3 linked regions of the Homo sapiens genome follow. The protein of the gene in region 3 interacts with the protein of the main gene of each other region in a pairwise test. Each region holds a gene or a part of one and is shown on either strand. Other genes may lie near its edges.

Region 1 (3,638 bases), on a different chromosome or scaffold from region 3:
CTTCCTTTTTTTTTTTTTGGGGACGGAGTCTTGCTCTGTGGCCCATCGCCCAGGCTGGAGTGCAGTGGCGCGATCATAGCTCACCACAACCTCCGCCTCCCAGGTTCAAATGACTCCTCTGCCTCAGCCTCCCAAGCAGCTGGGACCACAGGTGCACACCATCACGCCGGCTAATTTTTGTATTTTAGTAGAAACGGGGTTTCACCATATTGGCCAGGCTGGTCTCAAACTCCTGACCTCGTGATCCGCCCACCTCAGCCTCCCAAAGTGCTGGGATTACAGGCGTGAGCCACCGCGCCTGCCATGTGCCTGCATTTTTCTAGGGGGAGAATCTCACTTGATGTCACCTGATATACAGAGGGGCCCATTGGAACCCGCATTGCACAACATCCTGGAGTCTGGCTACTCCACGCTTTGGGAGCAGGGAGGGCTGTTGGCAGAGACCATCTGTGGACTAGCTGGGGGACCCTTGTGAGGTAGCAGTGGATGATGGCTCTCGGGCTGACTTCTTTGCCCAGGAAGAAGGTGTGCAGCGGGCCCGGGAGGAGGAGGAGAAGCGCAAGGAGGTGACCTCGCACTTCCAGGTGACACTGAATGACATTCAGCTGCAGATGGAACAGCACAATGAGCGCAACTCCAAGCTGCGCCAAGAGAACATGGAGCTGGCTGAGAGGCTCAAGAAGCTGATTGAGCAGTATGAGCTGCGCGAGGAGGTAAGGGTATCACGGACAGCAGTCATGGCCCAGAAATTGTGAGGTTTTGAGTGTGTGCTAGGCACTGGGACAGTACCTTTTCAGGCTTCATCCCATTCTCCCTTTCTTCCTCCTCCTCCTCCTTGGGAGGAGAGTAATGTTATTCCTCATAGATAAAAAACAGGTGTGGAGAAGAGACTCACTTACAGCCACACAGCCCCAGGTCCACAGTGCCTTGTCCCAAATGACTGGGCCAGGCATCTTTTGGAATTAGAACTATCCACATTTTAGAATGGAGGTACATGTATGGACTGTGTGTTATATAGCACCCTCAGCAGGGCCTTGGGGAAGCCAGACACATTAATGTATTTATGCAGTAGAACTTCCAAATACTCACCTACATTATGGGCTTACAATGATGCAGGTCAAGTCTGGCTGCCAGCTTATGACAATTTCCATTTTCAGAACTTTGTAGAATTTGGAATTGCAGGGGAGGGGTGTACCTGTGATCAGTGATGGACTCCAGAGACTGTGTCCACTGATTCCTTGCTGCTCCTGCCACTCAAAAGGCAGAATTTATCAGGCTGGGCGTGGTGGCTCATGCCTGTAATCCCAACACTTTGGGAGGCCAAAGCGGGCGGATCACCTGAGGTCAGGAGTTCAAGACCAGCCTGGCCAACATGGTGAAACCCTGTCTCTACTAAAAATACAAAAAATTAGCCAGGTGTGGTGGTGCACGGCTGTAGTCCCAGCTACTCAGGAGGCTGAGGCAGGAGAATTGCTTGAACCCAGGAGGCAGAGGTTGCAATGAGCCAAGATTGTGCTACTGCACTCTAGCCTGGGTGATATACCGAGACTCCATCTCAAAAAAAAAAAAAAAAAAAAGCAGGATGTCACTCCCTTTGTCACTGCGTTGGCTGCCACCCCAGGCACTTGAATCTTTGGATCTTCCCTGCCAGTCACCTGGCTGTTCTGGGCGCGTTCTCATCATGAGAAGGGAGACCTGCAGCCCCCTTACAGGGCTGGCAGAGGACCTGCTCTGGATTAGGCCCTTTCCTAGCCCCTGGGGTGTGGCAGTGGGTGAGACCGGGAAGATCTGCCCTCTTAGGTTCATAGGCCAAAGTGATGATCGTGTGTGCAGGACCTAGAGGGCGCTCCCCTGACCCACCCCTTTCCTTGCCATACTTCATCCTCTGGGAACAAAGCTGCTTGTTTGGTTTGAGGGGAGTTGGTTTGGTTCTTATCCCTCAGCGCTGAGACATAGAGGCTTCCTGGGCCACTACAGTGAGACACGAACTTCAAGAATCTGAATACCCCCGTTTTCTCTCCCCGCCAAGGCAAAAAAGGACTTAGTACTACCTGTGGAGAAGGAGGTGCAGGACTACCAGGCCCTGCTGCTTTGCATTTACAGCCCTCCCCAGACAGACACAGGCACCCTCATCATACCCAAACTGGACTTACCTGCTAGGCACCTTCCCTTCCCCATCCAAAAAAATGGAGTTATTTTCCCTTATTTCAGCAAGTCCAGTTGATTTTACCTTTGAAGTAGCACCTGAGTCCTTCACCTTCTCTCCATCCCTTCTCTCTCACCTGACACAGGTCTGCAGCGCTCCTCTAGTAGGCAGGACAGCCATTCCTTGGGGATGCACATGTCTAGTCTTTGCCTAGATATGGCAAGTCTTTGCCAACTGAGCTAGGCTGTTATGTTCTTAGAGGCATTGTTTTTGCCCATTCTTCCCATTTACAAGAGAATCAGGGACACAGAAGTGAGGGCTTCCAGCCCCATAGGTGATCAATCCTGGGGTCAGAGATTTGAGTGTGTTTATTGCTTGCCTTCTTGGGAGCAGATTCCATCCATAAACCATGTGCTTACCAAGGTCTGACTCACTGGGAGAGAAACGACGTGAGGTTGGAAAGCTGACCTTCCAGAGACTTGGGGCCCATGTTGTGTGGTACACATGGGAGTCCATCATATCAGATTGAGATGGGGGGCTGGGCAAAGTGCCCTGGTCTGTGGCTGTGGGGCTACCCTGAGAAAGGGAGCGCCTGACAAGCCGACTGCTCCCACCATCTTTGTTGCAGCATATCGACAAAGTCTTCAAACACAAGGACCTACAACAGCAGCTGGTGGATGCCAAGCTCCAGCAGGCCCAGGAGATGCTAAAGGAGGCAGAAGAGCGGCACCAGCGGGAGAAGGATTTTGTGAGGCTCAGGCCCCAGGGTTGGGGTGGGGGTGGGAGGAGACAGGCTGGGCTCTGGCTCAGCTCATAGCCGGGTTATATGGGAGAAGTCTGGCCAGACCAGGCACAGATTCCTTGAGTACCAGTCTGAGAGCAGGAAGCCTCAGTGGGTCTGGTGCTTGTGGCTAAAAACCAAACATAGCCCCTGGGGGCTTCTGACAGGATCTGGGGTTCTGTCTTGGAAATAGCTCCTGAAAGAGGCAGTAGAGTCCCAGAGGATGTGTGAGCTGATGAAGCAGCAAGAGACCCACCTGAAGCAACAGGTGAGAGCATATAACCTGACCCTGTGCCTTCAAGTTTCCCTCACTGGGCCCCATCCTGGGGGTAGTGAAATGGGACCCTCATTCTAGGACTGGCTGTGTCCTGGCTGCTATGACGCCTTGGTTGAGCCTTTGTTCTCTCCGGACCTGCACAGTACCTATGTGGTGGTGACCAGGTAGTTAGGTGGGCTCAGAGGACTTCATTTGTAGCTCAGAAATGTATTGCTTTTGAGGAGGTAGGAACAGAAGAGTTTGAAAATCAACATAAAGGCAAAATAAAAGTCACCCTAAGTCTCCTACTTTCCAGGCTTAGCATTTTGGATTATATCCTTCCAAATATATAGCTTTGCTTTGTTTTAAGGAAAAATAGTATCTCAATAGAATTACTGGTCAGAGAGTCAAGGACGGGTCTGAGTGTGTTGACCAGAGTGCCTCCCAGAGAAACC
Region 2 (3,656 bases), on a different chromosome or scaffold from region 3:
CATTAAATCAGGGATATATTTGTGATTTCTCATTAAATCAATAACCATAAACAATAATAATAATGATGAGTCTATGAATTCTATAAAAACTCTATTTAGAATTTTATTTCTATAAAGATTTTTATTTAGAACTTTATTTGATGTTCTTGAAATGCCATGTGTGTTATTTTATCTTGCTCAGTCCTTTGGTATCTACAGGAACACAAAAACTTAGTGTCCTTCTTAGGTATGTTTATTTAAATTATTGGTTTTCTTCTGAAGCACTGAAGATCTAAACAATCTTCTAAAATGTTCTACGCTATGAACATCAAGCACAAAAGAAACTGTAAAGACCCAGTGTACATAAAAAGAGTATGTTCAGAAACCTCCTCCTTCTTCAGAGAAGCCCCTGGGATTCATATAGCTGATTTAGCAAAACAAGATAAAATTTTGGCTGTTGCCACATTTCATAAATCAGTCAAAATCATATGCTAAGAAGTAATCCTGATATCAAACTCATATCTATTTACCAGCACAAAGTCATAAATTCTTAGGTCATGGTACTAGAAGAAATTCAGTCATACCAACTAGCCTCCTTTTGGCCAAACTGTACCCCTTCCCTATCCCAGACTGTAAAAACTTAATTAGGGCCACAGAAGAAGTCCCACAGATTAAACGTAGATTAGGAGCCTCAAGAACCAATAGTTACTACCCACTGATACCTGGGCAGAGAGTGTCCTGCATTTCCCTCCATACCATGTACTGGATAGGACCTTTGTACTGGCCCAGGTTCAGCTTTCTGGAAATAAGCTCTCTGGTTGCCAGCACCTTCATTCCTTGCTCCAAGCTGCAGGGCACATAAATCATTTATCCTTAGACATCCTCCAGAGACTCAAGGAATGATATTAATAGTACCATAGGGAAACACTTACCTATGTAAGAGAGTTGTGATGTCCTAGAAGAAAGGAGAAAGAGAGACATCAGATGCCCGTTCATCAACTCTCAAAATTTCTTTGGTGATACCAGCCACCACCAGAATTTGTGCAGATGGTCCCGAACTCATCTCTACCAACTTCTTTCATCCTTCATACACTTTTTCTAATCTTCATCCCTGATCCTAACCCAGGTTAAATTGATCTTTTGCTCTTTCTAGAGTTCTCTTCTACAGGGAGCAAGACAGAAGCCAATAAGACAATACTTAAGGTTAAGCTATCTTTACCTATACTTTCAAATAGTCTCAGAAGAAAAACACATTAGGTATCCCAGTCCCAAGGCCACTTTTCCTTACTCTAGCTAATTAAACTTCTGAGTGCTGAGATGGTAACCAACGCTTCTTTAGAGGTGAAGCTTAAGAAAGCAAAGGTTAGAAAACAGCTTTTCAGACAGGTCAGCTTATGATTGCTGAGAGCCAAAGATACAACTCAGGCTGCAACATTTTTATTTTTGAGAAATAAAGCATCAAGCTCTTTATGGAAAAATATTAAACCATTACTATATACTATTATTAATGGAATTTAAAAATCGTATTTCCTAAGAGGATGAAAGTAAAGCTTTCTGCTGTGCGTATAGCTGAAGCAGCCTCCTCCTTTTCTTCCAGAGAATCTTAAAAGCACTATAACAGTTTTGTTTTGTTTTGTTTTGTTTTCCCTGGATGTGAAAAGCCACTTCCGCATTCTTTCCAAACCTCTTCCCCCCTCTAGGTAGGAAGGTACCCATAATCATATTGGTGTGGATTCTCACTTTGAGAAAGTCGAAGGAGTTCTGTTGTTCCGTCTTTGCCTGAATGCTCACCAACATATCCTTGGCTAAGAGACATTGCTCCTGAAGCTGGCTCAGATTCAACTCCATCTCCTCATTCAAGGCTTTCCCCTCTTCCCGGAGCTCAGTTAAAATGTCCTTTTCTTTGCTGTGCAGGAACTGATGCAGCTTTAGAAACTCCATGGACACATGTTGCTGCAGATGTAGCTTGTTTTCCTGGAAACCTCCATGATTATCACCATGGTTATTGCAGAGACTAGTGCTTGGGGATGGGGGCCCACACCACCAACACTCACACACTTGGTAAATACCATCACAGAAAAATGCATACAAATGGCTACTGAATATCAAATTCAGTCATACTAAAATGAGTCCTTTGGGAGACTTACTCCTTTTCCAACTAATTTAATAGTTCAGGATGAAATAGGCAAAAGTGACCTCCAGTTTCCTATTGCAGTACTGAGATGGTAACCAATGCCATATTAAATAAGACTGTGGAGTTAGTCAAACATTCTAGAATGAAAGATAATACCCTCCTAGATTGGTAATCCAAAAGCTGCCAAGTGGTACTGTTAGACTGGGGGTATTGGGAGGCTGGAAGAACTGTCCTTACCTAGAAATCAGAACTGGGGGAATGCCACTGTTACACTTGCAGCTTTTTCCTTGGGTTACCTCAACATCCTCACAGTTAAACTATTTGACATCCTGGCTTCTCAGTTCCTCATTCTCCTCATTTCTAGTGATTTCCACATTTATTGATTCATTCCTATAGTCTCACCTAGGATTTTATCACCCCCAGCAATTGTATCATCTCCAAAATAACTTTTTATGCACCAGGCTCACTCAGATACTCCTATTGCAACAATTATTGGATCTCATTGAAACCTCCTATTCACCGATCCCTCCATTTCTATTCAGGAACTTCTACCTTCATGTCCTCTCTTATCTAGCTTGGATCCCATGGTCCATAATTATTATTGCACCTTAAGATAGTCTTGGCTGGGCACAGTGGCTCATACCTGTAATTCCAACACTTATAGAGGCCAAGCTGGGAGGATTGCTTGGAACAGGAGTTCAAGACTGGGCAACATAGTGAGACCCAGTCTCTCCAAAAATAAAATAATTAGCCATGTGTGGCAAACTAGTCCCAGATACTCAGGAGGCTGAGGTGGGAAGATCTCTTGAGCCCAAGAGTATGAGGTTACAGTGAGCCCATATCCACCTCATCAATATCATCTTGCTTAGCATGTTCCAGCTTTATTGGCCTTTTCTCTGTTTAACATAGCAGCTAACTTTCCATCTCAGGACTTTTCCAGATACTCTTTTCTATTCCTAGAACATTCTTCTCCAGGCTACCTCCTTCATATCCCCACTCACCCAGTTCACTTGGATAAGTTACTTATCCTTCAATTCTCAATTTTTAATGTGACTTCTTCAGAGAACACCCCTCCCCCAGTCTAGATTATGTTCTCCATTTATATGCTATCATCATACCCTATACTTTCAGTTATAGTACTTATCACAGTTGTTATTTTATTATTACTCATGGGATTATTTAATTAACAGCTGTCTCCCATCCCCAATATCTAGTATTATGCCTGACCCACTCAATAAATATTTGTTAAATGAATGAATGAATGCTCACACTAATAGGAACTTTTACAAAAGGAACAAGATTTTCTGAAGACATCATTACTTCCATATATCCTTCTTCTTTCCCTGAGTCTGCATATTTTTTTCTTCCAGATGCCAAATACCTGAGAAGGCTCTTCTCCATAGAATAATGAATAAAGAAACAGAACTTCCAATTTAGCACCCCCAATCTAGGGACTGATTTGCCAAAGCTCTAGCCATTAATGTTGTCCTAGAGTGCCTATGAAGTTGAAAGTGCAGACAATAGCTTTATTTAGCTTGGAGGA
Region 3 (3,656 bases):
CCTCAAGTCCCACCCGTAGGTGCCCACTGCCCTGTGGCCCTTTGAATGGTGTCAGGAGACAGTGAGGCCGCCCCATTTGCACTAGGCTCACAGACAGCCAAGCAAAGAGTGGATGGGCAACGGTTCCGGAGTGGGGGCTGTTTCGGTCACCTTCTAGTTTGGTGGCGGGCACGGGGGTGGGCAAAGGAATGAGTGGGGCATGGGGAGGCTTCGCTGTGGAGACAAGGCCCTGGACTTGGAGAAGAGGAGCTGAACTCTTCCTCCTTTATCAAATGGACATGCCCATTTATAAAATGGGTGTGTCATGTGCCCTGCCAATCTCAAGGTCAGAAAAGCTCAGGGAGGTGAAATTTCTTCACAGCCATAACATGGCATTATTCAGCAGCTGGAGTGGCCGAGGGGACTGAAGATGGCTTCTCCACCCTCCTGCTGCCTCTCCTGCATCTCTGGTCAGCGTGCACCACCTTAGGGCCTCCGCGCTTGCTGTCCACTGTGTTTCAGGCCCTCTTCCCTTGGCTCTACCTGTGTGGGTTATTCATTCCTTCAGGACTCTGCCCAGGGATCACGTCCCCACGAAGGCCTCCCTTGACCCTGTCACTCTCCACCTCCTTATTTTTATTGACCTTGCACGCCACGACGTGTCATTATATACCGATCCGCTTGTGGACCTCTTGCAGGTCTTCCTCCTAGAACGTAAGCTCCCATCTTGTCTTGCTGTTGAGTCTCTAGTGCTGAGAGTGCCTGGTGCACGTGGGTTCTCGGTCAGCATCTGCTGAGTGAGAGGAAGTGGGCAGTCCTGGCCATACCCAAGTCTCTTTCAGGTCCTCGTCCCAGTGTGGTATATAGACACGGCTTCCCCACTGGACCCAGGGAAGGAGCTGCAGGAGTCCACCCAGTCAGGGAGGCTTGCTGCCGACCATGACGACGGTGATGACAGGAGCGGACACCCCGAGAGCTGACCCGTGCCAGGCCCTGTTCTCAGTGCTTTACGTTGCTCATCCAACTTCATCTTCAGCAACAGCCTGTGCCACTCGGATTGGCGTTACCTGTGCTTCTCGGGTGACGGAACTGAGGTAGAGCTAAGTCAGCTGTCCAGAGCTGCGCAGGGAGTGCTGAAGCTATTGATCAACCTTTGGTCAAGTGCTTGCTGCTCCGGGGTGGGAAAGTCAAGGCCTTGGAGAAAGAACCTCAAGGAATGGTCTCCATCTCTCCCGGCTGCTCGTCGCCTCCTTCCTGGGACATGGCCTGCAGCAAGGGCTCTGGATGCTCCCTTATTCCCGACCTGCTTGTGTCTCTAGGCTCCCAGGCCTGGTTCCTCCTTGTTTCAAACAAGAGCTCTCCAGCCAAGAAACCTCCCCAAGGGCCCTGGCTGTTTCCCAGCACCTGCTGGCCCCCACTTCCCAAGGACCTCCCGGTGCCCTTTGTCATCATAGAATTATCTGGGGTATTTCTGGCCTTACACTTTAACCCAACCTCCTGTTTAAACACATGACAGCTTCCATTCTTGTTGCCACTGGAGCGCCTGTCCCAGCAGGCCACGGAGTCTCGTTTCTGCGGGAAGGAATGTGCTTCCCTTTCCCTCTGGACAGCCTGAGCCGGTGGCCAGGATTCTGAGGCAATGGAGGCATCTGCTACCAGAAGCTTCCACCAGCTGCTGTACTGTCCTGACTGGAGTCCCAGGAGAGCCTTGCCCCAGCACCCACATCCAGAGTGGGGCAGTGCGAGCTCTGTGCAAAGTGGGATGTGACTGGTGAGGAGTGACTGCCCTGAGGCTGCTTCTCAGGACACTGGGTACACGTCCTCTGAGCGCAGCAACTTCAGAGCCCTTGGGGGGCTGAGAGAGGAGGGTGCCCACCTCTGCCCCACCTGCTCAAGCGAGTGGTGCGGGTGGAAAGTCACCTACCCAGGTCTGCGTCGGTGCTCTTCTTCATGTCTTTCTGCAGCCTCCGGGTCTGCTCTTCCAGCCTGCAAGGCAGGGGACGGGCTGCTTGGGGTCCCCTTCCTTCCCCCTACCTGAGCGAAGCCCAGGTGCTCTGGAGGGCCTGCCAAGGAGGAGGAGAAAGGGATCTTCTCCACGGGGACTTTTCCCGCTGACTGAAGTGCCACTACACCCAAAGGCTATGAGTGAATGACTCTCACATGGCCATTGCCAGGGAACAGTTCCAGCAGCCTGGTGACCTGAGCTGCCCTCAGCTTCCAGGGTGCTCACGGGGCAGGGCACGGGGCAGACAGGTGAGACCTGGCAGGGGGCCCTTGTCCCTCCCTGCCTCCCACCTCATCTTTCTGGGGTTGACACTCACTGCTGAAGTTTTCCATACTCCCTTTCAAAGTCTCTCTCCACCTGAAACGAGAGAGATAACTCAATTATCGGAGAAATGACAACACGGTGGAAAAAACCTCCCAGCCTCCTGAAACTCTCTCCACACCCTGCCCCAGTCCGCAGAAAACAACATGGTCCAGTTCACACAAGCACCGACAGATCGCTCCTGACACGGTATTTCTGAGATCCCAAGTTAATTAAGTGTTTGAATTACGGAGGAAGGCTCCCCTCCCAGAGGGTCCAGCCAGGCAGGTGCCAGCGGACTGTGGCTCTGCTCTTCCCAGCTGGGAGCAAGGCACTCGCTGCATGCCCTCCTCACCCCAGGCTGGAGGCAGTCAGGGTGCTCAGAACGTGACTGGACCCCATCCAGGAAGGCAGCAGAGTGCAGAGGAGAGGGCGGGTCTGGAATTGGGGGTCTGTCTCTGCCTTTTCCTAGTTTCCAGGTCCATGCAGGGCACCTCCCCTCCTACGCGGCCCTCCACTCAGGGCCACCTGCCCCTGCTGGGCTCAGGGTGGGTCAGGAACAATCGTGCACCTGTGCTTTGTGATTGGGATGCATCAAACACAGACACTGTGACTACTGACTCAGGTCAGGCTCTCTCCATTCCCGACCGGGTATCAACTCTCTTGAGAGCCAGCAACACTGAAACCAAATGGGTGAGTCCTGAACCCGGGGCTGCACTTGTTGCGGAAGATGAAGTTAAGAAGTCTAGTACTTTCTTCTGGTGCCTTGACTTCACTATCTGTAAAACGGAGCCTCATGATTGGTCTCTTATGGGCATGCAATGGGAAGTAAATGACATCGAGAGGCAAAGGAGACTAAGCTAGAGGCCTGCCCTCCCTGGCCAGAGCTGCAGCCGTCAGGTGCCAGCTTCGGGCTTCGTGCTCTGAGAAGTCAAAACCGCTAACTCACATTCACAGAGCCCTCACTGTGTGCTTTACAAGAATGCAGTTCTCTACACTCATCTCCAAGGCAGGTCACCGGGAACCAGGTTACGTACCCTGGCCAAGGTCACCCCATTGGTGAGGGGTAGAGTTGAGCACAGTGGGAATGGAACCCAGGCAGCCTGGCTCCACAGCCTGTGTTCGTAACCATCATTCTCCTGGAAGGCATTTGCTGACCCAAGAAAGAAGTCTTCCTGGCTGCTCCCTGGGAATCCTGTCCCCAAGAGCCCTAGATCCTGACTTCTGCTCTGAGGGTCAGGGAGTACACATCTGCAGAAACTGTCAAAGCCACGCTATTCCTACCACTGTCTTCCAGCAACGCTGACCTGATGAGAGAATTCTAAGCCCCTTAACCTTAGCACTCCACGTTTGGATTTAGATTAATTCAACA

The links.
Region 1: the proteins of BIN3 (region 3) and TXLNA interact in binary tests that used the Homo sapiens proteins (3 or more experiments, as listed by UniProt).
Region 2: the proteins of BIN3 (region 3) and TRIM69 interact in binary tests that used the Homo sapiens proteins (3 or more experiments, as listed by UniProt).

What each region holds. Positions count from the first base shown.
Region 1 is NC_000001.11:32,189,537-32,193,174, forward strand, and holds part of TXLNA (alpha-taxilin), read left to right. Parts: intron 1-518; coding exon 519-713; intron 714-2,774; coding exon 2,775-2,894; intron 2,895-3,120; coding exon 3,121-3,195; intron 3,196-3,638. UniProt on the Homo sapiens protein: May be involved in intracellular vesicle traffic and potentially in calcium-dependent exocytosis in neuroendocrine cells.
Region 2 is NC_000015.10:44,756,918-44,760,573, reverse strand, and holds part of TRIM69 (E3 ubiquitin-protein ligase TRIM69), read right to left. Parts: intron 1,962-3,656; exon of another isoform or gene 1,954-1,961; coding exon 1,720-1,953; intron 935-1,719; coding exon 912-934; intron 827-911; coding exon 702-826; intron 1-701.
Region 3 is NC_000008.11:22,634,622-22,638,277, forward strand, and holds part of BIN3 (bridging integrator 3), read right to left. Parts: intron 2,342-3,656; coding exon 2,301-2,341; intron 1,966-2,300; coding exon 1,904-1,965; intron 1,892-1,903; exon of another isoform or gene 1-1,891. UniProt on the Homo sapiens protein: Involved in cytokinesis and septation where it has a role in the localization of F-actin.